3 separate regions of the Homo sapiens genome follow, and all the other regions are reported to be linked to region 2. The links are microRNA targets in miRTarBase. Many come from high-throughput screens and were not tested one by one. Region 2 holds a microRNA gene; each other region holds the end of a gene's coding sequence.

Region 1 (10,484 bases), not on the chromosome of region 2:
TGGCGCTTAGCCTATAGCACTCATCCTAAATTTTTCTGATTTGCTACCCTGTAAAGTTAAGACACATGCCAAAAAGAAAAAAAGGCTGGAAAGTGACCAGGAAGAGAAAAGTAGTGAGGGTATGGAAGACCTAGGTTCATGTAGTTACATTGAGCCAAAAAAAAAAATGAACTTTGAACTAAGATAATAATTTTGGGCCCGGGTTGGTGGCTCAAGCCTATAATCCCAGCACTTTGGGAGGCCAAGGCAGCTGGGTCACTTGAGGCCAGTAGTTTGAGACATGGTGAAATACCATTTGTACTAAAAATACAAAAAATTAGCCAGGCGTGGTGGCACGTGCCTGTAATCCCAGCTATTCGGGAGGCTGAGGCAAGAGAATTGCTGGAGCCCAGGTGGCCGAGGTTGCAGTGAGTCGAGATCCTACCACTGCACTCCAGCCTGGGCAACAGAGGGAAATTCTGTCTAAAAGAAAAAAGAAAAGATTAAAAATTTGTGTATGATTATCAAAGGGTATATGGGCCCAACTTTCAAATGTGTTAAAGGTACTGAAAAGGGGATATTTCAAGAGTACCCACAATGAGTCAAAGTTCCATCCATTTATTTAATGGTGGGTGGGAGTTGTGTTCTTTTTTTTTTTTTTTTTTTTTTTTACAACCATTGGTGTGGCTTCTGTGTTAATTCCATCAGTGCGCCCTCTCTCTTTCCATGCCAGGGTACTGAGAAGTCATTTTGGATGCATTATAAATTGAGACTGTTAGAGATTGGCTTTGGTGCTAGTGCCATCTTTTATTTCCTTTCAGGAAATCTATCCTCCAAAGTTGCACCAGTTTGCGTATGTGACAGATGGAGCTTGTTCAGGAGATGAAATTCTCACCATGGAATTAATGATTATGAAGGTGGGTTCCAGTGAATTTTCCGGCCATTTTTTAAATGCGTACGGCAGATCTTTTCCACCTGAAGTGTGAGTGCCTCTGGGAGGTGTTCTCCAGCTGGACACATTGTGGCATGGAACATGGCTGCATTTTGAACTTCTTTTCTCAATCATCGGTCTCTTTTCTCTCTGTTTTCCTTTAGGCCCTTAAGTGGCGTTTAAGTCCCCTGACTATTGTGTCCTGGCTGAATGTATACATGCAGGTTGCATATCTAAATGACTTACATGAAGTGCTACTGCCGCAGTATCCCCAGCAAATCTTTATACAGATTGCAGAGGTAAGTGGCTCCATCACGTCCGTGGGGCCACCTTCCCTGCAGCTGGAGTGAGGAACTCTAGAATAGGCGTGTGGTGGCATCCATCTCAGCGTTCTTTTCTTCTCCGTAGCTGTTGGATCTCTGTGTCCTGGATGTTGACTGCCTTGAATTTCCTTATGGTATACTTGCTGCTTCGGCCTTGTATCATTTCTCGTCATCTGAATTGATGCAAAAGGTTTCAGGTAAGTTGGCTTTCCAGTGCATGCACAAACAAGGTGTACTAAGCTTACATCCAGTTGTCAGCCTCAGATTAAGCCCACGATGTCTTCACTGCAGGGTATCAGTGGTGCGACATAGAGAACTGTGTCAAGTGGATGGTTCCATTTGCCATGGTTATAAGGGAGACGGGGAGCTCAAAACTGAAGCACTTCAGGGGCGTCGCTGATGAAGATGCACACAACATACAGACCCACAGAGACAGCTTGGATTTGCTGGTCAGTGCTGCTCCTTCTTTCAGTCCTTCTTGGCCAAATTCTTAAAACTGCCTAAATAGGCCAGCCGCGGTGGTTCAGGCCTGTAAACCCAGCACTTTGGGAGGCCGAGGTGGGCCGATCACTTGAGGCCAGGAGTTCAAGACCAGCCTGGCCAACATGGTGAAACCTTGTCTCTACTAAAAATAAAAAAATTAGCCGGCTATGGTGGTGGGCACCTGTAGTCCCAGCTACTCGAGAGGCTAAGGCAGGAGAATCATCTGAACCCGGGAGGCGGAGGTTGCAGTGCGTTGAGATCACGCCACTGCACTCCAGCCTGGGCAACAGAGCGAAACTATGTCTCAAAAAAAAAAAAACTGCCTAAATAACCTGTTCACTTTTCTTCAGGCAGGCCCCAAATATCCTTGAAAAACTCCAATTTTAATTAATTGAAAAAGAAAAATCCTGGCAAATTGATGCTGTATCTCACTATCATATAGACTATAGAGTTTTAAAGTGCTCTTTGATATTTTTTTTTCTTTCACTCACCTCCGTAGAAAAAGACATAGTGGCCAGACACAGTGGCTTTTGGAGGCCAAGGCAGAAGGACTGCTTAAGCTCAGAAGTTTGAGACTAGCCTGGACAACATAGGGAGACCCTGTCCCTAAAAAATTTAAAAACTAGCCAGGCATGGTGGCACATGTCTGTAGTCCCAGCACTTTGGGAGGCGGAGGCGGGCAGATCGCCTGATATCAGGAGTTCAAGACTAGCCAGGCCAAAATGGCGAAACCCTGTCTCTATGAAAAATACAAAAATTAGCTGGACATGGTGGCGGGTGCCTATAATCTCAGCTACTCTACTTGGGAGGCTGAGGCGGGAGAATCGGTTGAACCCTGGAAGTGGAAGTTGCAGTAAGCCGAGATCCCACCACTGTACTACAGTCTGGATGAGAAAGCAAGTCTCCATCTTGAGAAAAAAAAAAAATTTAAAAATTAAAAAAGAAAAAGCCTATGGTAATTGAAGCCCAAGGATATGTTCTACTCTAATGTGTTGTCCCTTTTATTCTTACCAACAGGACAAAGCCCGAGCAAAGAAAGCCATGTTGTCTGAACAAAATAGGGCTTCTCCTCTCCCCAGTGGGCTCCTCACCCCGCCACAGAGCGGTAAGAAGCAGAGCAGCGGGCCGGAAATGGCGTGACCACCCCATCCTTCTCCACCAAAGACAGTTGCGCGCCTGCTCCACGTTCTCTTCTGTCTGTTGCAGCGGAGGCGTGCGTTTGCTTTTACAGATATCTGAATGGAAGAGTGTTTCTTCCACAACAGAAGTATTTCTGTGGATGGCATCAAACAGGGCAAAGTGTTTTTTATTGAATGCTTATAGGTTTTTTTTAAATAAGTGGGTCAAGTACACCAGCCACCTCCAGACACCAGTGCGTGCTCCCGATGCTGCTATGGAAGGTGCTACTTGACCTAAGGGACTCCCACAACAACAAAAGCTTGAAGCTGTGGAGGGCCACGGTGGCGTGGCTCTCCTCGCAGGTGTTCTGGGCTCCGTTGTACCAAGTGGAGCAGGTGGTTGCGGGCAAGCGTTGTGCAGAGCCCATAGCCAGCTGGGCAGGGGGCTGCCCTCTCCACATTATCAGTTGACAGTGTACAATGCCTTTGATGAACTGTTTTGTAAGTGCTGCTATATCTATCCATTTTTTAATAAAGATAATACTGTTTTTGAGACAGCTGGTTTTATGAGCTATGTCTGGTAACTTAAGGTAGCAGTCAGCTTTAATTGTGGTTATATCAACTTCTGTTTTTTGACTTCATACTTCTTGAGGCTCAAGTCTTTCTTTTTTTTTTTTTTTTTTTTTTTTTTTTTTGAGACAGGGACAGGGTCTCGCTCTGTCACCAAGGCTGGAGTGCAGGGGCACAATCTTGGCTCACTGCAGCCTCTGCCTCCCGGGTTTAAGCGATTCTCCTGCCTCAGCCTCCTAAGTAGCTGGGACTACAGGCGTGTGCCACCACACCCAGCTAATTTTTGTATTTTTAGTGGAGATGGGGTTTTGCCATGTTGGCCAGGCTGGTCTCAAACTCCTGACCTCAGGTGATCTGCCCATCTCAGCCTTCCAAAGTGCTGGGATTACAGGTGTGAGCCACCACACCCAGCCTTGAGTCTTAACTCTTTTGGTCAAATACATTTTTCAATGTATTTGATGGAAAGGAAACTTTAGACGTGGGCTTCAGGTGCAGCCTGTCTGCCTCCTGGTGCCCCCTGAGCTGGAAGTGAGGAGTCCACCTGGTATTTGTCTCACCACGCCCTGCACTGGTGGCTGCTCACACCAGGTTTGTTGGCCATCAGTAGTAGTAGTGATGAGGTAATGTCCACACCGAAGAGGATTCCTAGGTGTAACTTCCTTCCTAGGACTGGTTAAAGGCCATAAGGAATCTGGAATTAGCATGATTTAATGCTTTTTTTTTTTTCCCCTTACCGAAATCTTAGCCTAAAGAATAAGTGAATTTTTATTTGGAGAACTTTTAACATAGTAGCCTAAAACTGCTTTTAAGAAGAAAATGAGGCTGGGTGCGGTGGCTCATGCCTGTAATCCTAGCACTTTGGGAGGCCAAGGTGGGCGGATCACAAGGTCAGGAAATCGAGACCATCCTGGCTAACAGTGAAACTCCGTCTCTACTAAAAATAGAAAAATTAGCCAGGCATGGTGGCGGGCACCTGTAGTCCCAGCTACCTAGGAGGCTGAGGCAGGAGAATGGCATGAACCCAGGAGGCGGAGCTTGCAGTGTGCTGAGATCGCGCCACCACTCCAGCCTGGGCAACAGAGCGAGACTGTCTCAAAAAAAAAAAAAAGGAAAAGAAGAAAATGTGGCTGGGCGTGTGGCTCACGCTTGTAATCCTAGCACTTTGGGAGGCTGAGTTGGGCAGATCACTTGAGGTCAGGAGTTGGAGACCAGCCTACCCAACATGGTGAAACCCCATCTGTAGTAAAAATGCAAAAATTAAGGCTGGGCATGGTGGTTCACGCCTGTAATCCCAGCACTTTGGGACCCAAGGCAGGCAGATCACCTGAGGTTGGGAATTCAAGACCAGCCTGACCAACATGGAAAAACCCCATCTCTACTAAAAATACAAAATTAGCTGGGTGTAGTGGCACATGTTTATAATCCCAGCTACTCGGGAGGCTGAGGCAGGAGAATCCCTTGAACCCGGGAGGCAGAGGTTGCAGTGAGCCGAGATTGCACCACTGCACTCCAGCCTGGGCAACAAGAGCAAAACTCCATCTCAAAAAAAAAGAAAAGAAAAGAAAATTAGCCAGGCGTGGTGGCACACATCTGTAATCCCAGCTAGTGGGGTGGCTGAGGCAGGAGAATCACTTGAACCAGGAGGCAGCAGTTGCAGTGAGCCGAGATCGTGCCACTGCACTCCAGCCTGGGTGACGGAGTGAGACTCTATCTCATAAAAAAAAAAAAAAAAAAAAAAAGTCAGGGCGCAGTGGCTCACGCCTGTAATCCCAGCACTTTGGGAGGCCGAGGTGGGCGGATCACCTGAGGTTGGGAGTACAAAACAAGCCTGACCAACATGGAGAAACCCCATTTCTACTAAAAATACAAAAAAAAAAAAAAAAATTAGCCAGGTGTGGTGGCACATGCTTATAATCCTAGCTACTCGTGAGGCTGAGGCAGGAGAATCGCTTGAATCTGGGAGGCGGAGGTTGCGGTGAGCTGAGATCGCATCATTGCACTCCAGTCTGGGCAACAAGAGCAAAACTCCATCTCAAAAAAAAAAAAAAAAATGCGAAGTAGAGTCATATGTCAGCTGAGCGCATGATGCAGCCTGTTCGCTGAGCACTGATGGAGTCACCAAGTGCCTTGCTAATCATTGCTGCCCACTTACAGGCCTCGTGTACAGCTCATGTGACCTTTGTTTTTGTACTTTTAGTAGAGACGGCGGTTCACCATGTTGGCCAGGCTGGTCTCGAACTCCTGACCTCGTGATCTGCCCACCTCAGCCTCCCAAAGTGTTGGGATTACAGGCGTGAGCCACCACGTCTGGCCGCTCACATGATTTTTTTTTTTTTTTTTTTTTTTTTTGAGAGGGAGTCTCGCTCTGTCACCTAGGCTGGAGTGCAGTGGCACAATCTTGGCTCACCGCAACCTCCACCTTCCCCCTGTTCAAGATTCTCCCACCTAAGTCTCCCAAGTAGCTGAGATTACAGGTGCCCGCCACCACACCCGGCTGATTTTTGTATTTTTAGTAGAGATGGGGTTTCATCATGTTGGCCAGGCTGGTCTTGAACTCCTGACCTCAGGTGATCTGCCTGCCTCGGCCTCCCAAAGTGCTGGGATTGCAGGCGTGAGCCACCGCATCCGGCCACTCACATGACTTTTTACTGAACATTCTTCAAATGGTGGTCTTTTGGAGTCTTGTGTTTGACTAACAGTGCTTCATCACGTGTGCTAGTGCATACAAGGAAGGGTGAATGAACAAATAAATACTGCTTATTTTCAACTTGGTATTTTATCTCATTTGGCAAAAATCTAAAGAAAAAAGCAGCCATTTGAAATTCGTAACCATACGCAGTGAGCCAAGATGGCACCATGGCAGTACAGTCTGGGCGACAGAGCAAGATTCCATCTCAAAAAGAATAAAATAAAATCTGTAACCATATTTGTATGAAGTTGGAGAGACTTTACTTTTGACATTGATGTAGTTCTGGCAGATTTTTTTTTTTTTTTTTTTTTTTGAGACGGAGTCTCGCTCTGTTGCCAGGCTGAAGTGCAGTGGCACAATCTCGGCTCACTGCAACCTCCACCTACCAAGTTCAAGGCATTCTCCAGCCTCAGCCTCCTGAGTAGGTGGGACTACAGGCAGGCGCCACCACACCCAGCTGATTTTGTATTTTTAGTAGAGACGGGGTTTCTCCATGTTGGCCAGGCTGGTCTCGAACTCCTGACCTCAGGTGATCCTCCCTCCTCGGCCTCCCAAAGTGATGGGATTACAGGCATGAGCAATTGCGCCGGCTTTTCTGGCAAGTTTTATTTATTTATTTATTTATTTTTATTTTATTTTATTTTTTTGAGATGGAGTCTCACTTTGTCACCCAGGTTGGAGGGCAATGGCGCGATCTCAGCTCACTGTAACTTCTGCCTCCTGGGTTCAAGCAATTCTCCTGCCTCAGCCTCCTGAGTAGCTGGGACTACAGGCGCGTACCACCACACCCGGCTAATTTTTGTATTTTTAGTAAAGACGGGGTTTCACCATGTTGGCCAGGCTGGTCTCGAACTCCTGACCTTGTGATCCGCCCGCCTCAGCCTCCCAAAGTGCTGGGATTACAGGTGTGAGCCACCGCACCCGGCCCTCTGGCAAGTTTTAATACTACAGTTATCCTAATAAACGCATTGTAAATCTACATGTAATGGTATTTAGTCAAATGATAGGACTAGCCAGTTATTTCTTCACTTTAGGCAGAGATGTTCTAGTCTTAAAAAGCAGTGAGTTTTTGGCTGGGCGTGGTGGCTCACACCTGTAATCCCCACACTTTGGGAGGCTGAGTTGGGCAGATCACTTAAAGCCAGGAGCTTGAGACAAGCCTTATCTGCAACCTTTGCTTCCCAGGTTCAAGTGATTATCCTGCCTCAGCCTCCTGAGAAGCTGGGATTACAGGCACCTGCCCATGCCCGGCTAATTTTTTTTTGTATTTTTAGTAGAGACGGGGTTTCACCATGTTGGCCAGGCTGGTCTCGAACTCCAGACCTTGGGTAATCCACCTACCTCAGCCTCCCAGAGTGCTGGGATTACAGGCGTAAGCCACCTTGCCCGGCCTACATTTAGCATTTTCTTTTTTTTTTTTTTTTTTGGAGATGGAGTCTCACTCTGTCACCCAGGCTGGAGTGCAGTGGCATGATCTCGGCTCACTGCAACCTCCGCCTCCCAGGTTCAAGCGATTCTCCTGCCTTAGCCTCCCGAGTAGCTGAGACTACAGGCACCCACCACCACGCCCTGCTGATTTTTGTAGTTTTAGTAGAGAGGGGGTTTCACCATGTTGGCCAGGCTGGTCTCGAACTCCTGACCTCAGGTGATCCACCTGCCTTGGCCTCCCAAAGTGCTGGGATTACAGGTGTGAGCCAGTGTGCCCGGCCTACATTTGGCATTTTGTAAGCAAAAAGATGGCACTAAAAAATTTCTATTTCCAAAGTTTCATAAATTTGAGAGCTTGACACATTGAGGTAACAGCAAATTTGAAAGTACGTTTGAGGCTAGGCACAATGGCTGAGGCCTGTAATCCCAGCATTTAGGGAGATTCGAGGTGGGAGGATCACTTGAAGTCAGGAGATCAAGACCAGCTTGGCCAACATGGTGAAACCTCATTTCTACTAAAGTACAAAAAATTAGCCAGGTGTCGTGCTGGGCGCCTGCAGTCCCAGCTACTCAGGAGGCTGAGGCAGGAGAATCGCTTGAACCCAGTAGGCAGACGTTGTGGTGAGCTGAGATCATGCCACTGCACTCCAGCCTGGGTGACACCTAAAAAAAAACAAACACATTTGAGGTAAATATTAATTCATAGGTCATTTAGCCACCCACCGTATTAGAGAGGGTGCTAGAATATGCTGAAATAAGAATGCCTTATATGTAACTTGTTGGAATGCTGTGTTTCTGGAAGTCAAAGCTTTTTAAGTGGCAGTGTTGTCACAGGCAGCTCTTAATTATTGGTGCTAATAAAGGCTAAGTCCTGAATGGGTAAATGACATCCATATTAATCAATCATGTCTATACTCAGGAACCCTAAGAGCTGCTAGTAAGTAGAAATCAAAATTCCCCTGTAAGAGGAGCTTTTTCCACTTGCTAGTAATCCCTGCTTTGGCCTCTCTCTCATTGGCTGCAAATACCCCTTGACCAAGTCGCTTATGTTCTGCTATTCAGCTAAAGCCAGATGAGGCCACAAGAGACACTGGGGTGAAAATGGCAGCTCAGTCAACTTGGGTGAACAGATGTCCTGAGGAGATGTGTTAGCAAGAAGGACCAGAGAAAGGAGGTGATGTGGCCCCTGATCTAACTCTCGGGTTAGAGATGGAGAAAAAGCGAGTGATTCACCAACCCTGGAGACCCTGAACTGTGGTTGAGCAGACCATATCCTCATATCCCGCCTCAGCTCACAGAATTCACTTGCGGCCAGGCACAGTGGCTTATGCCTCTAGTCCCAGCACTTTGGGAGGCCAAGGTGGGCAGATTGCCTGAGCTCAGGAGTTCAAGACCGGCCTGGGCAATATGGCAAAACTCCATCTCTACAAAAAATTTAAAAATTTAAATTTTTTTGTGGTGGCGCATGCCTGTAGTACCAGCTACCCAGGAGGCTGAGATGGGAGAATCACCTGAGCCTGGGAGGCCGAGGCTGCAGTGAGCCATGACTGTGCCACTGCACTCCAGCCTAAGCGTCAGAGTGAGACCCTGTCTCCCAAAAAAGAATTCACTTGCTAGAGTCCGCCAGAGTTGTTGTCATTTCTCTGCCCACTGTGCCTGACGACAACAACAACAAAAAAACCCTGGTCCTCAGGTGGTGGGAGTCAAGGGTTTTCCAATGCCGTCTTCCCTGTGTGGAACACGGACAGCTTACTCTTTCATGATGGTTATTTGGTACCATGTGATAAATACATGATGCAGAGGTTCACACTGACTTTTAGTTTCTAAGGCAGGTAGAGCCATGGAGCCCTTTAAGATTCAGAGCATGGCACCCAATACGTGTCCATCCTCTAACTCAGACACAAACGAGATTGGAGTTTATTTGGGCAAAATTAGGCTCTAGCTCTGAGCAGGGCTAGAGAGAGAAATCAAATCTGATAATGTCTAGTCATATTTACCCAACCGTGCATTTTCCTACCACATGTTCCACATTTTGAAATTCAAATCACATTTATACCTTGGACATTGTTAGAAGACTATTTTTATCCCTGCTGTAATCATCTAATTTGCTGATTACAGGTCTCAAATTGCCACAGAGAACTCAATTTTTGAAAGAATTGTCCTGTTTGATCAAATATGTTATTCAAGCAATGCAGTCATTTGTTCCACAAGTTTACCTGCCAGGTAGAGTTAACCAGGAGTAATAGCATTAGAAGCCTATACTTAAAATCAAGCATTAGCTAATCCGCCTGCGACAATAGAGTCTTAAATATAATTTGCTGCAGATACTTCAGTTCCTGCACCGACAGACAATTGCAGTCTGTATCCAATGAGCACAGATTTTTTCCTACCTCGTCCCAATTCCAAATTTAACTTCAGAAGACTCTAATGTACTCAGTTGCATAGGCTTACCAGGTACTCTTTCCTGGGAGCCTCACATGGGAGGGCAACACTATCCTTTATTCAATAAACAGCATCCCCCACCTTTTAAATCATTTTCCTGATCAATGCCAATTCCAAAAGTTGTGTGGTATCTGATTATGCAGTGCGGTTCAAGTCAAATGCTGGCTTCCTTGGGGTTGGTGAGTGAGGTGCCCTCGATGGAGTCCCTGCTAAGTGTACACTGCCAGTCCTGGAGACATGAACTCAAGGGAGCCTGGGAGACCGGGGAAGCCCTGGAGTCCCCGGAGGGCACTGGTATGAAATGAAAAGGTGGCACTCTAGGAGCAGAGCAGCAGCAGGACTCAAGCTCGGGAGGTGGGGCTGTGGAATGCTCTCCAGCAGTCACAAAAGCCCTCACAAATAGGGTAGAGGAAGGCCACATCACAAGGGGCTTTTGCCGTCAACTAAGATGGGTGTGGTCTCCCCCGCAGCAGGAAGCCGGTGTTTGTAAGACAGGAGTGACTTGCTCAGAGCCGGTTTGG
Region 2 (10,484 bases):
GAGGCGGAGGTTGCAGTGAGCGCTATTGCACTCCAGCCTGGGCAATAAGAGAGAAACTCCGTCTCAAAAAATATATATATATGTGTATATATATATATATAAATATGTATATATATGTATATATATATATAAATATGTGTATATATATGTATATATATATAAATATGTGTATATATATATATGTATATATATATAAATATGTGTATATATATGTATATATATAAATATGTGTATATATATGTATATATATAAATATGTGTATATATATGTATATATATAAATATGTGTATATATATATAATTGCAAAGTGTTAACTGTCAATGAATCAAAATAAACAGTATATGGATGTTGTTCGTACTTTTCTTGCAACTTTTCTGAAGCTGTCATCATTGTCAAAAAGAAAAACAGAAAGACAGCCGGGCACGGTGGCTCACGCCTGTAATCTCAGAACTTTGAGAGGCCGAGGTGGGCAGATCCCCTGGGATTAGGAGCTCAAGACCAGCCTGGCCAACATGGTGAAACCCCATCTCTACTAAAATACAAAAATTAGCTGGGCATGGTGGTGGGTGCCTGTAATCCCCGCTACTCGGGAGGCTGAGGCGGGAGAATCGTTTGAACCCGGGAGGCAGAGCTTGCAGTGAGCTGAGATCAAGCCACTGCATTCCTGGGCAACAGAATGAGACTCCGTCTCAAAAAAAAAAAGAAAAACAAAATCAAAAAAAGGCCTGTACCCAGCTGTCCTTTATTAGGCACACCATGTGGCCTGGTCCAGTGTTAGGTCCACCACTCCATGACCTGACAGCCCCTGCTGGAGAAGCACCCTGCAGTAGAATCTGTGCATTACAATACTCATTATAATCCCAACAGTGCTCATAATAACAGCGCTCATAATAACCCCAAGTGTTCTCTTCACTATACAGCAGTGAACAAGAGTGAAGAAGCTTCGGCTCCATCAACTGCATGAGACTCAGCCAGACACGGCACCGTGATTCCATTTACATTAATAACAAGAAAGCCAGACAAAATGCTCGCAGACTGTTTGGGAAAGTGTACGGGGTAGTAAATCCCAGAGAAAGGAGAGGAAGTGATTACCTTAACACTCAGAACTGTGCTGACCATGGGCGGGGGGGACCTGGAAGGGCATATTTGGGGGCTCTGCAGGTTGTTACATGGGGACTCATTGTGAATTCTATGAATATACATTATACAGTGATGTTTTATACACACCACAGCGGGAAGAGCCCCACCAGGGCCACCTTGGGTAAGGCAGTGCGCGCCTGGGACCCGCAACTGTGTGTAGGACGCTGGCACCTGGGCTGTGCCCTAGGCCCAGGACAGTGTCCTGGCCAGGCCAGGCGCAGTTCTAGGCGGCCCGGGGAAGGCGAACCCAGGGGCTGCTCCCCCAGGCCTTGGGAGCCGCGCGGTGGGGAGGGTTGGCCCCGCCCCGCTTGGGAGGGGTGCCCGGGGCGCCCCCTAGTGGTGGCCACCGGGAGTAAGCCTTGCAGAAGAGGAAGCTGTCCCCGCCCGCCCCGCGCCTCCGTCCGGTTTCTGCATCTTTGCCCCTGGCATTCCTTCCTCCTCCAGTGATCACGACCTGTTTCTGGGGTTCACCTCAGCAAACGCCGACCTCACACTCACCTCTCCCAGGGAGGCTTTACTCCTCCCCGCCTGGGCCTTCTCTCTCTGAGGCTGGCGTACGGTCAATCTGCACAACCTCTCAGGGCCTCTGTCAGCGTAGCGTTTCACACACGTGTGGTGTGGACGATGGGACAAAGACAATACTACTGAGGCCTCCCACCGCCAGCTCTGTGCTGACCGCCCCACTGTGTCTAGGCTCCCTCCCTAAGCAACTTTGCTCATGCACAAGGTCAGTCCTTCTGTGTGCATTTATTAAGTGCCTCCTTTGAGTCTGAGGCTACAGGAAAAAAGTCAGTGGCCGCCACTCCTGGGGGCTTTCAGGCTGGTGGGGGAAATAGCCCGGTGTGGGTGATGGGGCATGATGGGGGCGCTAACATCCCAGCCACAGAGCATCCAGGGAGCCAGTGAGTGGGGTAATGGGGGGCGGGGCGGGGGGCCAGGCAGGTGTCCGCGAGGGAGTGACCCTTGGGCAGGTCTTGAGGAGTTCTGAGAGGGGTTGGAGGTGAGACCCAGGCCAGGGAAATGTGCATGGGCCCAGGGCCTGCTGGGTAAAGGACACAGGTCAGTGGGCTCAAGGAGCTGGGGGAGGGTGCTGGATCCGCCTTGCTCATGCATTGGAACAGGTCTCCAATAGCCCTCGCAGGCCTTTGTGGGATCGCAGTGCTCTGCAGAGGCAGATGCAGGAGGACCCCCAGGGCAGGGTGGCTGCTGTCTGCTCCCCTTTCACCCTATGCCAGTGCTCTGAGTCTGAGGCCTGACAGCCCCAAGAGGGTTAGAGTCCAGGGCCCTACCATCCAGCCCATGTATCCTGAACACCTACTATGCTGGTGGGTGGGGGAAGCAGCCAGGGAGGATGAGTAAGTCATGGACCTTGCCCTCAAGGAGTCTGAAACTAGCACAGGATTAGATAAGCACACAGGGCTCCTTAACTCTGTAGGGAATGAGATAAGGGTGGCGGGAGAGGCCCACGAAGCCGGGGTGTGGGCAGAGAGGGGAGCAGCGCCTGCAGAGTCATGGGATGGTCTGCAGGGAGGGGTTGCTGAGCTGGGCCACGGCAGGGGCCAATCGGGGCCCAGGGATTCAGAGCAGCCAGGACAGTGTGAGCAGAGCTGCCTGTGGGAAGGGGAGAGAGACAGTGTCTTAGGGGCCAGATGTTTGTTGGCTGCCTACAGTCCCCAGGAGAAGGTCCAACTTGCTCTGTGACTTCAGCAAATGTGCACCCTCTCTGAGCCTGTGTCCTCCTGTCCCAAACAGGTTCATGATGGATGCCAGGAGGACCAGGTCCTGGATGTGCGTGCCCAGCAGACAGAAAGGGCTCAATAGCCAACGCCTGTTATTAAGCAATTTGACATTTATTCCTAGGTCTCTATTTCCCATTTTACAAATTTTATTTTGTAGTACCAGAAACCTTTTTATTCAAATGAAAAATTCTGACAGGGCACAGTGGCTCATGCCTGTAATCCCAGCAGTTTGGGGGGCTGAGGCAGGACTGCTTGAGGCCAGGAATTTGAGACCAGCCTGGGCAACATGGTGAAACCCCATCTCTACGAAAAATACAAAAATTAACCAGGCATGGTGGCACGTGCCTGTAGTCACAGCTATTTGGGAGGCTGAGATGGGAGGACTGTGTGAGCCCTGGCAGGTGGAGGCTGCAGCAAGCTGTGATTGTACCACTGCGCTCCAGCCTGGGTGACAAAGCGAGCAAGACCCTGTCTCAAAAAAAAAAAAAAAAAAAAAGGAAAATTTCCTCAGAACCCCGTTGTATAAGAAACAGGTGGGGCTGGGCGCGGTGGCTCACACCTATAATCCCGGCACTCTGGGAGGCCGAGGTGGGCAGATTATCTGAGGTCAGGAGTTCGAGACCAGCCTGGCCAACATGGTGAAACCCAGTCTCTACTAAAAACACAAAAATTAGCTGGGCATGGTGGTGCATGCCTGTAATCTCAGCTATTTGGGAGGCTGAGGCAGGAGAATCGCTTGAACCCAGGAGGCAGAGGTTGCAGTGAGCTGAGATCATGCCAGGAGGGGAGGCTTCCTCCTGGGAGGAAGCCTGTTGCATTCCAGCCTGGGCAACAGAGCAAGACTCTGTCTCAAAACAAACAAACAAACACCACAAAGAAATAGGTGGAAATGAGGCTGTTGTGGGAGGCGGGACAGGGGTGGGGTCAGCTGTCCTGTCCTGGGTTGGCTGCTCTTCCTCTACCAGCAGCTGGGGTCCTGGGCCCTCTTAGGAATCCTAGGGGCTGGAGAAGCTGCTCCACCAACCACAGGGCTGTGCTCCAGGGAGATGAGACTGGCAAAGGAGGGGAGAGTAGGAAGCAGATGGGGAGGCTGGCTCAGGGCCCCATCCTGGGTGGGGGGGCTCCAGCACAAACACTGGGCCTAGAGCACTCAGCCCCCCTTGGCCACACTGCATGTCGGTGGGTGCTTCCTCAGGGTGCAAGACAGAGGCTCAGGATTGGTTCAGCAAACATTTATTGGGCACGCGCCTGGGCTGGGAACTGAGCTCACAGATGGGGAGAGGAGCGAGACATAAGCAGAAACCAGCACCGGGGCTCCGAGAGGGCAGTGCTCTGCGGCAGCACTGTGTGGGGGTGCCCAGGTGGGGACTTAGAAGCTTCAATAAGGCCTTCTGGAGGCAGCAAATGCTTGGACAGAGCTTGAAAGGGTTAGTAAGAGTGAGCCTGGCAAATAAGCTAGGAAGAGTATTGCAGCCCAAGGGAACAGCATGGGCAAAGCATAGAGGTGCCACAGGGCAGGCAGGGCAGGGGCAGGACTGAAGCTGTTCAGGCTCATTCACGGGGAATGAGACAGAGGGAGGTGGGACCATGAGTGCTGCACTGGGGTCGCAGGATCTCTGCTGACTGCTGGACACCCCCGGCCCTCCCCTATCCCTGCAGGTCCTGGTGGCTGGCATTGAGGCGAACATACCTGTGACCTATGGAATTGGCAGCCAGAGGGGAGACGAGAGCACTGGCTGTCAATTCATAGGTCAGAGCCCTGTGCACTCGGTCTCGGCAGCCCACCGACAGCCCTCCACTACCCGCCACCATCTGGCCTGGGAGCGTCGCCACGGTAGTCCTGGCTGGTCTGCTGGCCAGCACCTGCCTCTCCTTCTTCGTGGGTACTGGCCCTCGCCCCAGATAACAGCAGCCCCACTGGAACCAGTGGGCACTTCCACATGGAGTTGCTGTTACAGGGGGCGGGAACCAATTGGAGACCGGGGCCCTGCCTGGCGTCCGCCTTCGGCAGGGCTCTGGAGAGTGTCCCATGCCCACTCACCTGGGCTCCCCAGTCTTCGTGGCCCCAGGTCCATGGTCTTTTCACCGAGGCTTCTTATCATCCGGGGCCCACACCTGGCGCCCCGTGTGCTGCCAGCACTCCTTCCTGGGCAAAGTCCAGGCTCAACCCCAAATCGGCCTCATAAAGCCGGGAGCGGCTCGGATTTACAACTCCTGGGCAGCCTTTGCCCGCTCTGATGACCCCACGCCCTCTGTCCCCAAGTTATTTTGTTTCCTTGTTTCTTTCCCAACCAGAGCTGGGCCTCAGTTTCAGGTTTGGCCACTGTCACCTCTGCCCTTTGCCCACCCTCCCTGCTGCAGCCATGGGGCAGAGAGACAGCAAGGGACAGCTGGCACTTGTCAGTCCCCAGGGACCTCCCAGTGCCTGATTTCATGAGGATGGCCTCGTATGGGAAGCTGAAGATGAGACTAAGAAGAAGTGTGGGGGGCTGTGTGGGGGAGGGCACAGAAAGAGGGATAGTGAGGCAGAGGGGCTGAGAGAGGAAGAGAAGAGTAAGGCCGAGGATGGCGGTGCACACCTGGCATCCCAGCACTTTGGGAGACCAAGGTGGGAGGATCTCTTGAGCCCAGGAGTGCAAGACCAGCCTGGGCAACACAGTGAGACCCCATCTCTACAAAAAATAAAAAATTAGCCTGGTGTGGTGATGCATGCCTGTGGTCCCAGCTACTCAAGAGGCTGAGGCGGGGGATCACTTGAGCCTGGGAGGTCGAGGCTCCAGTGAGCTGGGATTGTGCCACTGCACTCCAGCCTCAGTGACAAAGAAAGACCCTGTCTCAAATAAAAATAAGAGGAGCAGGTAGAGAACTAGAAAGGAACAGAGAAAACAAACAGGGATAGTGGATGACGAGGTGTAGGAAGGGGGACGACAGGGAACTGGAAAAGATGTAGATACACAAACCTGCCGCAGAACATGAGGAACAGGCTGTGAGCAGTGGCTCGCCTGGAAGGACGCTTAGGACCTCAGTGGCCTGGAAGACAGCAGGGGCCTGGGAGCTGGGTGACCTTGAGCAAGTAGCGTAACCTCTCTGAACCACTGTCCATATGTCAATCAGGACTTACGAGGCCACCCTGCACGCTGGGCTGGCCTGGTGGGAAGCATCCGCCCTGGGACCCTTGGGTCTCTCTCCGCTGTGGGGAGAGGAAGCAGCTGCTGGCCAGGGTCCCTGAGTGAGCCCAGGGCTCTGTGAGGCAGAGCTTCCTCTTGCAAAGCGTGTTCTCGTCCCTCCCAGACAGGTTCCGGTGACAGGTGCCAGTCCTGCAGAGACCCAGCAGGCATTTTGGGAGACTCCAAAGCTTCTGGAGAGAAAGGGGAGCTTTTAGAGTAGACTTGGGCCCTGCCCCCTTTGCCAGTGGTGCATACAGGCCTAGAGAGACAGAGGGGGCCGCCCAAGGTCACAGAGCAGGGCCCCAGGGCCTGTGCTGCCCCAACAACCTTCCCGAAGTGGCGTCCCCCCTTCTCAGGATGCAGTCAGGGTGGGATGGGGGATCCCTGGGCTGGAATCCTTCTGCCTGGGGGGACAGACCTGCGAAGGAAGACACCGTAGCTGGTGGCTGGCCCTCCACTCAGCCTGGCGGCCCTTCCCACAGAGGCCTGGGCGAGACCAGCCTCCTGCAGCGTGGTGTCCAAGTGCCCTGGCCTGGCAGAGACAGCGCCCGATCAGGAATCCTGGCTCCACAGCTCTGAGCGCTGATGCTAAGGCCCCCTTATCCCACAGTGGAAACCAAGGCACAGAGAGGAAGGGGCTCGTCCCGGCCACCCCATGGCTGTCCAGGTCCCTTTCTTCCTCAGGATTGGCCACCCTTCAGAGAGGTGCCTGGGTTCAGGAGCCTCCTAGGACAGGGAGGGCGGCAGGGGTCCTACCACTCAGGAAGCCTCTTACCTGAGTGCCGGGCTGGCCTTCGGGGCACAAGGAGGAAGTGGGGACACCCTGGGCCCAGGGCCTTTTGAGCCGTTGACCCAGCCCCTGGTGGTGGTTAATGATTATCCCACCACCGTCAATACTGATCACAAGTGCGGTTCGAAGGGCAGGAAGCCCTGGACTGTGCCCGGGCAGGGTGGGGCGGGTCCAGGAAGCATCAGGCTGGGCCCCATCTGCCTCTCCGGGTGGCATCAGCACCGAGTCTCCACAGCCCTGTCTCCTCCAGGGCCTCGCCCTCCTGGTCTCTTACCAGCCTGCTGCCCCAGCTGTCCGTGGGCAGCCAGGACCCCAGGGTCCCTCGGGACAAAGCTTCTGCTCTGTTCCCAGTACCCAGATCTCCCCCACTCAGAAGGGGCCACAGAGCAGGGCTGGGGGACCTTTGCTAACCCCAGAGGCCTGCGGAACCTAGCAAGGTGAGGGTTCCCTGATTCCCAACCCGAGCCTTGGTTTCCCCATGGACCCACCCACCTCTGTGCAGCGCCACTGGGAAGCAGGGCAGGGAGGAGCGCGATGGGAGCAGCTCACAAGAAACAAGATGTGTGGGGGGCAATGGGCGCTCCCTGGTCCTGTGTAAAGCTTTGTGCAGTGAGGGTTGGGATTCCGGCTGCAGCGCTGCTCCAGCACCCCTCCCCCCTCCAAGTGCTGGAGCTGGGACCCCAGATCAGAGTGGAAACCAAGGGGCCAAGGCCTGGGCCACCCCAAAAGCCCCCACTAGGGATGGTGAGAGCAACATCTAGAATGCCTCAGGCTCAGCCTTCCCCGAGTGGCCTCAAGTGACAACCAGGCAGGGTCAGCTGGGCTCCAAGGACCATCCCTCCCTCCCCTGGCAGCCCCACGTAGCTCCTGCCACATCAGGAGTGGGGCTGGAGTGGCAGCCTCCTGGGAGGGGCAAGGCAGAGCCCAGAGCCAGGGGAAGGCGTGCAGGGCTGGGTGCCTCTGGGTCCCCCTGTGCCCTGATCTGCTGGGCAAGGCCAGGAGGCATGGCGACCCCTGGTGGTGACATGGGAGGTGCTGGGTGCAGAGGTGGGATCTGGGGCGGGGCCAAGGTCAAGGCTGAGGCCAGGGTTCACAGGGACAGAGGATCTGAGAGGGGGGCTGGCGGTGGGCAGTTTATTCCACTTCATGCAGACACTGACCCACGCACTCACGGAGCTTAAAAATAATACATCGAACCACACGGATATCATCCCCTCCTCCCCCCAGACACAGAAAGACACTTGGCTGAGTGGGATGGGGTCCGAGGGTCCAAAAGCCTCCGTCCTGGGAGAAGGCAGCAGTGTGGGCCCAGGTCGGGGGAGGGGCAGTGTCCTTTCTCCCCGGAGGAAAAGTGCAGAGCCAGGGCTAAGGCCCCAAGGCAGGGAGGCCCCCCTCTCACAGCAGATTGGCAACGGGCAGGCTGGGAAGGCGTCCTTCACAGTGGCCATCCCCTGAAGGGCCAGGCCGGGCCGGGCCCGTGGGCTGCAGCTCTTGGGAGGCTCAGGAGCATGGTGGGCAGCACCCTCTGGGTGCCGGGCACCCCAGGCTCAGTCTTGGGCACTGTCCGAGCGCCACTTGAGGGCGTGGTCCTTGTGGGCGTCGGGGACAATCTGGTTGCGCATGCCCCCGAGCAGGCTGGACGTGGCCTCCGTGGCCAGGATGAGCGGCTTCACCACAGTCGGGGGCAGCTGGCGGATCACGCCCCCCACGGCGCCCGTCAGCCCCTTCTGCTCATGGCCCCGCGATGCCACGTCACAGATGGTCTGAGCTGTATCCAAGATGCCCTGTGGAAGCCAGAGGTCAGGGCGGGGTCTGTGTGAGGAGATGGGCATGGGGGACTGGGGCAGGGCGGGGGCCTGGTCACCTCTCGCACTGTGTCGTAGGCCTTGGCCACACCCTCCCGCAGGTCGGCAGGCTGCTGGCCCCTGCGCAGCCTCCGCGCAGAGCGCTTATCCTGCAGGGAGCGGGAGACGGGGGCTGCCGGGGACAGGATGTCATACACGGTCTCAGCTGTGGCCTGGGGGACATGGGAGCACTGGATGAGGACAGCTGGCTGGGGCACACGTCAGCCCCAGGCCCCCAGGACAGTCTGAGACCCCACCAGCCCTCAGCCTCCCTGCCTGTCACTGTGCTGGCCTAGGGGGTCCTGCTCAGCCTCACTCCCCACTTCCTCCCACTCTTCCTCCCCTTCCTAGGCACCTGCCACTCTGCTGAGGGAACCTAGGAACGTGGGACTCCTCAGGGGACTTTCCTAAAGTCTTCTCAACCCAAACCTCTCTTCCTGCTGACCACCACATTCAGCAGGTTCCACATGGCTGCCGCAGCTGCACGCCTGAGACTGACCGCTCCTTGCCTGGCCCCCCAGACGCCCCTGCCAGATGGTCAGAGGCCCATCCTTCCTTCTGTCTGCCAGATCCTCTGCCCAGCATCTCACCTGGCATCACTCTTTCCCACCTGACTGAACACTCCCGGGGGCTCCCTGGTGCCCATGCATCCCTCCCACCTCCCCTGGAGCCCTGCCCTCTGTCCTGTTGGGGTCTGAGCTTGCAGGTTCCAGAATGCACCATGCACCTGCACTCACCCCTTAGCCGCCTAGGACCATCGATCCCCTACAGAATTCATCTGACAACTGCCCACGAGACTGGCTCCCCAGCTTCCCTGGGGTCCTTCTGGCCTAGCGAAGCGTATGGCCTGAATGAACCAGGGCAGCCTCTGCGCCTCAGATTCTTAGTCTGCAAACACAGCCGTCCTCCACCCCCCTTTACAAGACATGCCATGAGCAGGAGACACAGTGGGCTCTGAAGGCCTGGGGGGCACTCCCGCTCCTGCATGGGAGCCCCTGTGGGCCTCGGGAGACCTGGCTTGGAGGTCCCAGGCAAGTCACTTAGCCTCTCCGTGGCTGTTTCTCTATAAAGTAGGGCTGTCATACCCAGACTGCCCACTCTGAGGAGCTTTGAGGACAGAACCAGGGAGCTGTGGTGCAGAGGGCTCCAGCTGCTCTGTCCTGCACAGCCCAGATACAGGGCACCCACTCACCTGGATAGCCTGTACCAACCGGTTGCTGAGTTCCAGGGCGGCAGAGGCTGTGGATGAGCCAAAGGAGGCAGCCCCTCGCTGCAGCCCCCGCATGAGGCGGCCATCCTTCCTGTACTGCTCAATGGGCAGCCACAGCAGGTCCCGGAACCCTTGGACTAGGGGGAAGGAGCGCTCAGAGACACCCGAGGCTGCCCTGCCCCCACCTCCTCCTCTTATTCCCAATGGCAGCTTCTAGGTTGCCCAAGGGTAAAAGCAGTTTCGAGGGCTTCCAAACCTAGACACTCACAGAGCTGGACAACCGAGTGCATGGGGCCCACGCCTCCCAGCAGGCCGGGCAGCTGGTTCTTGCGGATGTCCTGCAGCCACTCGTTGAGGGCATAGCCCAGCACCTTGTCCACACCCAGGAGCCTGGCAGGGCAGGGAGGTGAGGAGGCAGAAGGTGAGGCAGAGCCACACATGGAGGGATTGTGGGGTCAGGAGGACTCAGTACCCCTGTGGCAAGTACTGTGGGCACTCTACCCTCCCTGTGGTCCCACCCAGTCATGTGCAGAGGGACTGTGTCCTTTTTTTTTTTTTTTAGATGGAGTCTTGCTCCGTTGCCCAGGCTGGAGT
Region 3 (10,484 bases), not on the chromosome of region 2:
CAAGTGTATGATATCTGTAGTCCCCTTTTCTTAACCCAGAGCCCTCCATTTCCTACTCATGTGAGATAAGAGCTTGCTGTCATTTGGGAGAAATGTTCCATTTTAGGGATAAGGATCGTGGGTCTGGTTAGATGTTTAAGGTGCTGGAACAGAACATTTGATTCTATAAACATGTCTTAAACAGCTGCACCAGGTCAAACCCTGGGGACCTTCAAAGAATCCACCATCTAGTGCAGTAGACAGACAAGTATATAATTAACTCTAATAAAAGACAAAATGTCCTAAGCAGATTTATTATAAAAAACTCCAACAGTTTCAGAAGGGTGTCAAATGCAAAAAGTTCCAGTCCACCCTGAGCCCCCATTGCTATGCTGCAGAGTGAACCACAGTTTAAGGTTCTTTTGCAACCCTTTCAGAAATGGGTTTTGTTAGTAGTATTACAATAGGGATGTGAATCAAATGCCACGAGACCATGGGAGATGGAAGAACAATGAGTTACACCGGGGGAAGGTTTCACAGGTGATACAGTATCTACCTGAGCTGGGCCTGGAAGGAGAGAAGGATGGAGCAAGGCACTGAAACATACAAGTTCAGAAAGTAGGGGGAGTCCTTTATCATGTGGCTGGTGCTTGGTAGGGTGGGGGATACAATGTGGGGTGTGTGTGTGTGTGAGAGAGAGACAGAGAAAGAGAGAGACTGGGTGGACATTGGGCTGAAGAGGTTAGAAGGTCTCATATAATATCATGCTAGTGGCCGGGCATGGTGGCTCACACCTGTAATCCCAGCGCTTTGGGAGGCTGAGGCGGGTGGATCATTTGACGTCAGGAGTTTGAGACCAACCTGGCCAACATGGTGAAACCCCATCTCTACTAAAATACAAAAATTAGCCAGGCGTGGTCGTGGGTGCCTGTAATCCCAGCTACTCAGGAGGCTGAGACAGGAGAATTGCTTGAACCTGGGAGGTGGAGGTTGCAGTGAGCCGAGATTGCGCCACTGCACTCCAGCCTAGAGACTCCGTCTTGGAAAAAGAAAAAAAAGAAAAGAAAACTGTAATGGTAACAGAAGATCCAGTGAGGGTGGGTGGGGGTGCAGAAGAGTGACTCTTGGCAAAGGGAAACCGGTTAGGAGGCTGACAAGACAGAGCCCAGGCCAGAAGTGGCAAAGGCTGGAGCTGGGGTAGTGGAATAGTGAGGAGGGAAAACCCTGTGAACTGGGACCACTAATGTGGGGAGGCAGCGTTTCTTCCCGCATTAGTCAATGTAAGCGTTTGGCCCGGGATCGGCCTCTCCAGCACCCCTCCCAGCTGTCCCCAGGCTGCCACCCAGTCGGGTGTGCTCAGCAAAGTCAGACTCCACTTTCTGTAATGTGAGCTCTGGCCCTGCAGAAACGATGGTGCTGCTGCTGGAGAAAAAACTTGTCTAATGCATTCCAGAGCCAAAGAGAAATGCCTTTTGGATTACCCGCAGTTTAGGCCTTTCTCCACGGCTCCCCCTCTGCTGGGGAAGATCTTGGAGAGCAAGGAGGCCAGGGAAGCAAGAGTAAGAACAGGAGAAGGGAAGGCAGCCAGGGTTGGCAGGGGCGGGAGTCGGAGGAAAGACTGGTCCCAGCAGATGGCAAATGCCAGGTCACAGGGGCGCAGGCTAAGTCCCCAAGAAGCCTGCTAAGAGTTTTAGGTTCTAGAATGCCCCTTTGCCTCCTGTTTGTGTTATTTTGGAAGAGGTGGTCACTGATTGCGTGCTCACCATTTAGCTGAAAGCCGGGCCAGGCATTGCAGGGGACAGGAGAAGACATTTGCCTCAGCTATACCCAAGGAGCCTGTGGTTTAGCAGGGGACGGGGGAGCCAGACTGGCAGTGAGTTATAATGGGAGACATTGATGGTCGTGCAGCCTTTGTGGGCTTTGCAGAGTGTTCTGGGTCGGTGCCCCCACCGCTTCCTCCAGCCTCCTTCAATAACTCCCATCCTTGCCTTTGCAGGCCCTGCAACTGGTTCCTCTTTTCCGATGTCTTGAAGAGGCTGAAGCTTTCCTCGAGGATCTTTCAGGCCCGGTTCCCGCACTTTGAAATCACCACCATGCCCAAGGCCGAGTTCTACAGGCAGGTGGCCTCCAGTCAGCTGCTGACCCCTGCCGAGAGGCCTGGAGGCTTGGACGACAGATCCCCCCCAGGCTCCTCTGAGACTGTGGAGCTGGTGCGGTACGAGCCAGACCTACTTCGGCTCCTAGGGTCCGAGGTGGAATTCCAGTCTTGCAACAGTTGACCGGGAAAACAGCCCCTCCTCTTCTTTCTCCTTCCGAGTTCGCCCTTCCCCCACCTCCTTGTCTTTCCCCGACCGAGCACCAGACTGCAGAATGAGGCAATAATACGGACCAACAAGAAGCCGCCTTATCAATGCCAGCATTAGCGACTGGACTGTTTTTGTTTTTTTGGTTACAATTAGTTCTCATCTCCCTGTCGTCGTCATTGTTATCGTGGTTGCTGATGGGGGTGGAAAGTTGAACTCCATGTCTGAGGACAAGAGGTCCCGGGGGTGGTGGGAGGTGGCGCCGGGGTCCCTTGGACTGGCCTCCTTGTTCATGACCAAGACCAAACCTGGGCCCTGGATGGCCTTGGCCTGTCCCGAGGAGAAATGAGAAAATCCCAGATCTCTGAGCGCCCCCCAACTCCATTCCCCTGTGTTCTTCTGTCTTCTGTAGTATTTATTTTATTAGTATTTAATTTGTATTGTTTCATTGGTTTCTGATAAGTCTGTATCACTGTGACGATTTGAGACAACTTGTTGTATTGAGGGACTTTCTGTACCTCCTTTTCTTTTTCTTTGTTGATGAGCTCTGACAAAGCTATTCCCTGGTGTTTTTTTCCCCCACTGGGGAGGGGGTGAGGTGGAATGGGGTGGGGGAACATGGACTTGTGACTAACGAAGCTGGTTGCTGCTGGCCCAGGGCTGGGGGCTTGGGGGTAAATCCTGAGGCTTTGGTGCTCCCCCACCCACCCATTCCCGCCCTTTGCAGCAGCCCCGCTATCTTGAGATTAGTGTTGACAGGGAGGGGAGGATTGTGAGGTGAGGGGTTAATAAGTTACTCTAATAAAGGAGCGTGGAGAAGGGATCTGAGGGGTGAGGGTGGCCCCCCTCCTCACGCCTTCTTCACTGCCCCCCTCAGAGTGCACAATACGAGTTTGTTCCTGCCTCCACTCTCCCACCCCGTTCTGGCCTCCCTGTCTCAAGATACTGAGCCTCTCACCTCCCAGCCCTCAGCCACCCCCATCCCTGCCCCTTCTGAGACTCACAGCACCCCTTTCCTTCCTCTCCTCCCACCTCCTCCCTCAGCCCCTCATTCTCCTTGGGAATCTGCAGAGGGCTCTGGGACTCACTGCCGGATGTGAAATCCAGGCGTCAGCTGTTTCCTAGGCAAGGGCAGGAAAGTGGTCTCCAGCCCTTGCTCCACTCATGCCTGGGGGCCTGGGGCTGAGTGGTATCCCTACCTGGCCTCCCCCTGGCCTCTGGGCCTCCAGCGCTGGGTTTGTCGAGTGAGAGAGAGAGAGGAGCTTGGGTTGCTTCCCTGTCCCCGCCCCCTCTGTGGCATTGTCCCTCCCACTCTTATTTTTCTACCAATTGCTATTTTTCCGAACAATCCTTGTAGAGTATGTACCATCCAAAGGCAGGAGGGCCTCGCCGTGGCCGGCTCTGGTTGGAGATGGTACAGTTTTATTGTACAGGTGCTAAAACAACAACAACAAAAAAGAAAATGGAAAAAAAAAAGATTAAAAAAAAAAGGAAAAAAAAAAAGCCAGTTTGAGGATGGGACAATCTGTTCTCTAGAGGCTCCTGAGCCATGCGGGAGCATTGGTGGTTATTTTCTTTGTATTGTGTTTGTTCTTTGTTCCTGGGGGGGAAGTTCTCGGCCCCCTTCTGTAGGACTGCTCCCCACCCCCACCATACTGCCCAGTTGGTTTTGAACAGTTGTTTTCCCTTTTTAAGAAAAAAAAATACATATATATATACATATATATATATAAAGTTGAGGGGTTTTGGACTTTAATTTGTTGGTTTTGTTGGGGTTCCTGGTATTGTGTAGTTTATTTCATGTTCTGTTTGCCTTTCCTTTTTTCGCATTTGGGTGTATATTCTGGCTGCCCTTTATGTTTCATTTTAAGCAACTGGCTGTGGAGTCAAAAACACTTGCATACTGAAAAACCTGTGTCAGGGCTTCTGTCTCCCGTCTCTCTTTTTCTCTCCCGTCTCTCTTTTTCTCTCCTCCCCTTTGGGACTTTTTGGTGGTTTCAGAAGGTGGGCATTGTGATTCAGTAAATGGGGAGCCCCCGCCATCCTGCTTTGCAGCTGTGGGTCCCAAGGGGTACGATGAATAAAGGCAAGGTGGAGTGGCTAGTGAACATTGGGTCACGATCTGGAAAGAAAAAGAAAGGGGCAAATCCTGGGGGCGGGGCCAGTGGGGGCAAATGGAGCATCTGGCTCCTGTTGCTTTGGTTTGGGGTTGAAGCAGGTGCCTGGGCAGTCCTTGTTTACATAGGAGTAGCAGGGTTGGAGGAAGTAGCCTTCTCTGTGGTGGCTGTGGGAATAAGCCTCCTTAAGGAAGTCCCCTGCTTGCCCTAGGCCACCCTGCCGAGGTGGCATCTGGCTGCATGGCCTCATCACTGCCCTCACTGTTGTGCCAGTGCTCCCCACCCACGGTGCAGGCCTTCCATGGTTCTGTTTTCCTGCCACCGAGCTACCATGAAGGCAAGATGCCCATCCTGGATTTTGCAGTTTTTCCTCCCACTTCTGAAAAACAGTGGTAGAAGCTATGATTCTTGTGATTGCTGGTTCCAGAATGCACCAGTGACTGAGAGGAAGAGGATGTTCGAGAGGCCTGGGATGAGGCCCTTTGAAGCTCTATTCTCTTAGGGCTTCTCACTGTGGCTTTCGAGTCTGGAGAGCCCTGTTAGAGAGTGTAGAGGCGAAGGGATCTGTGCGTCTGGCTGGCTGGAGTCCAGCCGTCCTCAGGAGTGAACTCTAAGCTGCTGTCTTTGCTCAAGCCTCAGAAGCTTGGCTCGACCCAGGTCCAAGCATCATCCTCTTTGAACCATAGCATTAATCTTCCTCATTGGCCGTCCTCTCCCCACTTTCTGATCCCAAGGCCCTATGCAATAGCCACCTTTGTCAGATTCCCAAACAAGCCCACAGTGGTTCTGAATTCAGGTCGATCCTGTGCTTGGAACTTGCAGTTAAGTCAAGAAATCTGACATGTTGATAGGTTATAAAGCCATGTGGTGAGTATAAGAATTCAACTAGTCCCAGGATGCTATGGGAGCTCAGAAGCATGGGCAAGGGCCCTGGGAACACATCCTAGAAGAGGTGATGCCTAGTTGATACTTTAAAAAGTAGAAATGCAGGAATTAGAGGTGGCAGGGAAGAGTGTTTGAACTGAGAGGACAATCTGAGCAAAGGCTTGGATACAAGGGGAGTTAAAAGCAAAACCAAACAGCAGATTGTTTTATTGCTTTTGGGGTTCTTTGCCCACGGCTTACCTGGAGTCCCACTGCCCTTCTGCCAGGTTGGAAAGATCAAGGCAGGAAGTATGGGCCGTGGCATTAAATCTACATCCCCGGTCAGGATTGGGGTGAGGATGGCTTGGTGGCCTCTTATTAAATGATCTCCCAGTCCTTTTAGTATGGTGTAGAGGAAAGAGCCAGCACCACTCCTAACTACCTAGGCTGACCTTGGGCGAGAACCTAATCTTTCCCAGCCTTAATTGCTCCATCAGCCAAATGGAGGCCAATGTACCCACCTACTGACAGAGCATCACACTGAGGACCATAAAGATCTGTTTAGCCAAAATTAGTTCCTCCTTCATGCCGAGCTCACGAACCTATGGTTAATGAGGGTCTTATCAGAACGCTCTTTGGGCTTGAAAGAGAGGCTCTGTTCAAGTCTTGGTGGGAGGAGGGATAGTCTCCGCATCCCTATTTGGGGTAGGTGGGGTTGGGGGCGGTGGTGAATGGGGCAGTAAACTCCTGCTCGGTCCATACTCTAACCCAATAACCGGGAGGCCTGGTGGGTGTTTAACTGTGTCCTGCCCATGCAAAGACCAGTGTGTGTGTGTTTGGGAAGGGTGGGGTCCGCCCCAGGGGCGTCTGCTCAACTGCTGGGCAGGGGGACGCGAAGTGCTCGGGCCTTCTGGATCCCGCAGCAGGATCCGGGCCGGGGCTCCACTCGTTTCCCTAGCGCTCCGGCTGCCACCGCGCGGGGGTCGGCCGAGCCGCAGCGTCCGGCCTCTGGGGGCGACGTCTTTAGGCCCCGCGCCGGTCCTTGGGAGCCGGGCTCGTGCGGCGGACGGTCAGGTCCCTCCGCTAGCAAACGGCTGTCTGGGGCGCCTCGATCGCTCTCCCGCTTCACGGTAGAAGGCGGCGGCGCGCGAGGGGAGGGGAGGGCAGGCCGGGTGACTGCGACTCCGCGTGCTCACCTGCTGGTCCGCGAGGCTGAGGGAGGGGGCGCCGGGGGCGGGGCCAGAGCGCGGCTGGCCAATGGGGGAGCGCATTCGGCGGCCGGCTAAATTCCCCCTGGAAAGTGAAGGGGGCTGGGGTCGAGGGGAAAGTTCGAAGCTCCGGAGCAGCGGAGGGCTTTGGTGGCGGCCAGAACCATCCGGGGACAGTTGCAGGCGCAGGGGCAAGATCGGGGGACCGGAAGACGCCAGCCGCGGCCGCGGCCGCCTCCGCCAGGGACGGTAGGCCCAACCCTGGCTGCCCCTCCCTTCCCGGGCCCCGCCGGGCCACTCTCCCGCCATCGCTGGCTCGACAGCGCCACCTGCTGGACGTCGGCCTCCACGTCCGGCGCGCCGGGGCCCGAAGTTCTCGGAGGCTGGGACCTCAGTCTGGGAGGGGAAGGAGCTCACTCACCCCAGGTCCAGCGGCTTCAGAGCTGGAGGCAACTGCCTCTTTTGGAGTACAAGATGGGATCAGAAAGGCCTGTGACCGTCAGAATAACTTCTTGTCCCGCCCCACCCACCGGAGCTGACACTTCCACCGCACAGCCCCACCCAGGGGTGAGGAAATAGTGGCGAGGCAGTCCCTGGAAGCGGGCAGCAGCAAAGGGCGGGAGTTCGGGAGTTGCACGTGGCACCTGGTGACAGCAACGCACAGCTGGCAAGCAGCCCTGGGCTCCTCATGGACCCTGTGATCCGGGGATGTCTGTTAACACTCCAGGGGCAAAGGAAGTAGCCGCCTGCAGTGTTATAGGAGCGGGCAGAAAGCTGCCTTAGCTCCCAAGTGTGGATTGTCCTCCTCCCTCTCCTCTTGCCTGCCATAGCATAGGGCAGAAGTCTCAGAATTAAAATCAGGACCAGTTCCTTCTTTCAATAAGCATTTATTAAGAACCTACTGTGTGCTAGGCACTAGGGATATATCAGTGACTAACACACAGTCCCTGTCCTTGAGGAGCTCACAGCCTATTGGCGGGGAACCCTACATAAACACGTAATTAAAGAACTGTACTGTGCTAAGTGCTACCATAAGAGGTATTTACAAAGTGCTGTGAGGTGGCTCAGGGCTGTAATCCCAGCACCTTGGGAGGCTGAGGTGGGCGGATCACTTGAGGTCAAGAGTTCGAGACCAGCCTGGCTAACATGGTGAAACCCGTTCTCTACTAAAAATACAAAAATTAGCCGGGCGTGGTGGCACGCAGCTGTAGTCACAGCTACTTGGGAGGCTGAGGCAGGAGAACCGCTTGAACTCGGGAGGCAGAGGCTGCAGTGACCCAAGATCGCACCACTGCGCTCCAGCCTGGGCAACGGAGGGAGACTCTATCTCAAAAAAATAAAGAAAACAAAGTGCTGTGGGAACCCAGAGGAGGGAGTAACATATCAGCTGCTGGGAGATGAGGGTCATCTCTTGACTCCTGACTCCATTAAACCAAGAAAAGGCAGAGACTTACTGCCACATGACTCTGGTTAAAATGAACCTGTCTCCTGAGGTTCTCCTCTAGCCCTCTCCCATAACTGTATCAGCACAGGTTAATTGGTTTAGCTAGTTTCACACTTGGAGTAGGAAAGAAACTGGACAGGGAAGTTGCTTTAGGGGTAGAGGATGTTCAAAATAGTAACAAATTTTGAGTGCTAAGATGGGGGGGTGGGGTTGGGGATACCATGAGGGCACTGAGCCAGGGAGGGCAGGCCCAGAGCAGTGGAGCACCTGGGGTGAGTGCCTGTGCAGAGGGGAGGTCAGAGGTCACCTACCTCAAAGTTTGGTCCCCATCTCCCACCGGCTCCATCAGTAACCATTACCTTGATCCTTTGTACTGTGCCATGTTACGTGGTTGATACAGTCCCTCCCACTCCTCAAGGAGGTAATGTGCTAATTGGGGACACTAAATAGGTACAGGTCATTGAAGATTTAAGTAACAGTTTGCATTATAATAGATGTCACAGGGTGTTCATGATCAGTTGCTGAAAGAGTGGCAATTGCAATAAGTTTTAAATAACTCACTTAGGACAGACTGGTCTGGGGAGGCAGAGTCCATGAATCGAGTCTTGAAGGAGGGACACAATTTAATTGGTACTAGCAGGATAGGAAGGACATTCTGATTGAGTGGAACCAATCAGATCTTGAAGGATGGATTGTACTTTTTTTCTTTTCTTTTTTTTTTTTTTTTTTTTTGAGACAGTCTTGCTTTGATCACCCAGGTACAATCTCGACTCACTGCAAATTCCACCTCCAGGTTCAAGGGATTCTCTGCCTCAGCCTCCCCAGTAGCTGGGATTATAGGTGCGTGCCACCAAGCCCGGTTAATTTTTGTATTTTTAGTAGAGATGGGGTTTCGCCATATTGGCCATGTTGGTCTCCAACTCCTGACCTCAGGTGATCCGCCCACCTCAGCTTCCCAAAGTGCTGGGATCACAGGCGTGAGCCACTGTGCCTGGCTGTGGATGGATTTTCTTTCTTTCCTTTTCGTTTCTTTTTTTTTTTTTTTTTTTTTTCAAGATGGAGTCTCACTCTGTCGCCAGGCTGGAGTGCAGTGGCGCGATCTCGGCTCATTGCAACCTCTGCCTCCCGGGTTGAAGTGTTTCTCCTGCCTCAGCCTCCCGAGTAGCTGGGACTACAGGCACACACCACCATGCCCAGCTAATTTTTGTATTTTTAGTGGAGACGGGGTTTCACCATGTTGGCCAGGATGATCTCGATCTCTTGACCTCGTGATCTGCCTGCCTCGGCCTCACAAAGTGCTCGGATTACAGGCATGAGCCACCGCGCATGGCCAATGGATTGTATTTCTAAAGGAAAAGATACATAGAAGGGAAGAATATTCATTAAGAAAACACAGGAGTGTGTAAATAATGTTGAGTTTGTCTGTATTGCCTAGAGCAGGTAAAAGATAAATGGAGGATCTTGGTTTCCAGGTTTAAAATGCTTAGAATATATGTAGTAGATAATAAGAGCAAAAGCACAGAGTTTGGAAATTGTAAACAGAGGCATGTTCACAGGCCAGCAAATCCATCAGTTTGACTGGAGCAGTGCCTTGGGGTATGAGTGGTGGCAGAAGGAGCAGGGTGAGTTGACTGGGGAAGTCAGTTAAGACCCAAAGGTGAAGGGTCTTGATGGCAGGCCAAGGACTTGGGGCTTTGTCCTGAAGACAGGGCTGATGCTAAGCTTAAAATACTTCCGGAGCTACTGCCCTGAGCCCAAGTGCTCCCCCATCCCTATTCCAGGACCCCTGGACTGGCTTCAGCAACGAAAGGGCTAAGTTTAGAAAGGATTAGAGATTAAGTATTTTGAGTATCACCCCTACCTGTAGGCCAGGAGGAGTCAGTGAGGGCTTTTTATCAAAGGGCAAATGGGAGGGGTTGAGACAGATCACGCTGGGAGCCCCTGTGTGTCTTGGGTAGTTTGAACTAGGGTGGAGGCTTCTGGGAATGTGGAAGAAAGGCGAGGTTTTACGGACATTGCAAACCACAAGCTGGACTTCGGGAGACGGGAGAGGGGGATGGGGGTGAAGTGAAGGCAACGATCAGACAGCTCTGAAATTTCAAATTTAAGAGGTCAGGAAAACAGTGGCACCATTAACAGAAATAGGCAAGTCGTGACGGCCTTTTTGTTTGCTTGATTTTTATTATTATTATTATTATTATTATTATTATTATTATTATACTTTAAGTTCTGGGATACATGTGCAGAACGTGCAGGTTTGTTACATAGGTATACATGTGCCATGGTGGTTTGCTGCACCCATCAACCCGTCATCTTGGAAAGGTTTTTTGTGAGCGTGGAAATAATTTAAAAATCCATTGTTGGCCAGCCGTGGTTGCTCACGCCTGTAATCCCAGCACTTTGGGAGGCCAAGGTGGGTGGATCACCTGAGGCCAGGAGTTCGAGACCAGCCTGGCCGAAATGGTGAAACCCTGGCTCTACTGAAAATACAAAAATTAGCTGGGCATGGTGGCATGTGCCTGTACTCCCAGCTACTCAGGAGGCTGAGGCAGGAGAATCACTTGAGCCT

The links. Region 2 holds the annotated microRNA hsa-miR-192-5p (CUGACCUAUGAAUUGACAGCC, at 4,614-4,634, opposite strand). A microRNA usually pairs through its seed, bases 2 to 8, with sites in the 3' UTR of a target mRNA and lowers its output. Matches are read on the target gene's strand: a 7mer-m8 pairs with bases 2 to 8, a 7mer-A1 pairs with bases 2 to 7 and ends in A, and an 8mer does both.
Region 1: the mRNA of CCNE1 is a reported target of hsa-miR-192-5p. The part of its 3' UTR that is shown has no 7-base or 8-base seed match.
Region 3: the mRNA of BCORL1 is a reported target of hsa-miR-192-5p. The part of its 3' UTR that is shown has no 7-base or 8-base seed match.

The regions. Positions count from the first base shown.
Region 1 is chr19:29,820,922-29,831,405 of GRCh38, forward strand. CCNE1 (cyclin E1) reads left to right here. Exons shown (of 12, transcript NM_001238.4): 8 at 801-896; 9 at 1,075-1,209; 10 at 1,319-1,430; 11 at 1,525-1,682; 12 at 2,734-3,391. The coding sequence ends at 2,856. Among named protein-coding and RNA genes, the nearest start is that of CCNE1, 14 kb to the left of the region's middle.
Region 2 is chr11:64,886,590-64,897,073 of GRCh38, forward strand. It overlaps MIR192 (microRNA 192), which reads right to left and starts at 4,657; the gene lies at 4,548-4,657. It overlaps ATG2A (autophagy related 2A), which reads right to left. Exons shown (of 41, transcript NM_015104.3): 38 at 10,159-10,280; 39 at 9,873-10,027; 40 at 8,701-8,853; 41 at 7,957-8,620. The coding sequence ends at 8,384. It overlaps MIR194-2HG (MIR194-2 host gene), which reads right to left and starts at 6,860. Exons shown (of 3, transcript NR_133640.1): 1 at 6,822-6,860; 2 at 6,001-6,237; 3 at 1,869-2,751. MIR194-2 (microRNA 194-2) reads right to left here and starts at 4,850; the gene lies at 4,766-4,850. RefSeq lists an enhancer at 803-1,373 and a silencer at 1,207-1,566.
Region 3 is chrX:130,053,879-130,064,362 of GRCh38, forward strand. BCORL1 (BCL6 corepressor like 1) reads left to right here. Exons shown (of 14, transcript NM_001379451.1): 14 at 1,976-4,193. The coding sequence ends at 2,258. It overlaps ELF4 (E74 like ETS transcription factor 4), which reads right to left. Exons shown (of 9, transcript NM_001421.4): 9 at 10,077-10,484. Among named protein-coding and RNA genes, the nearest start is that of ELF4, 51 kb to the right of the region's middle. RefSeq lists silencers at 6,351-6,610, 6,631-6,930, 6,951-7,020.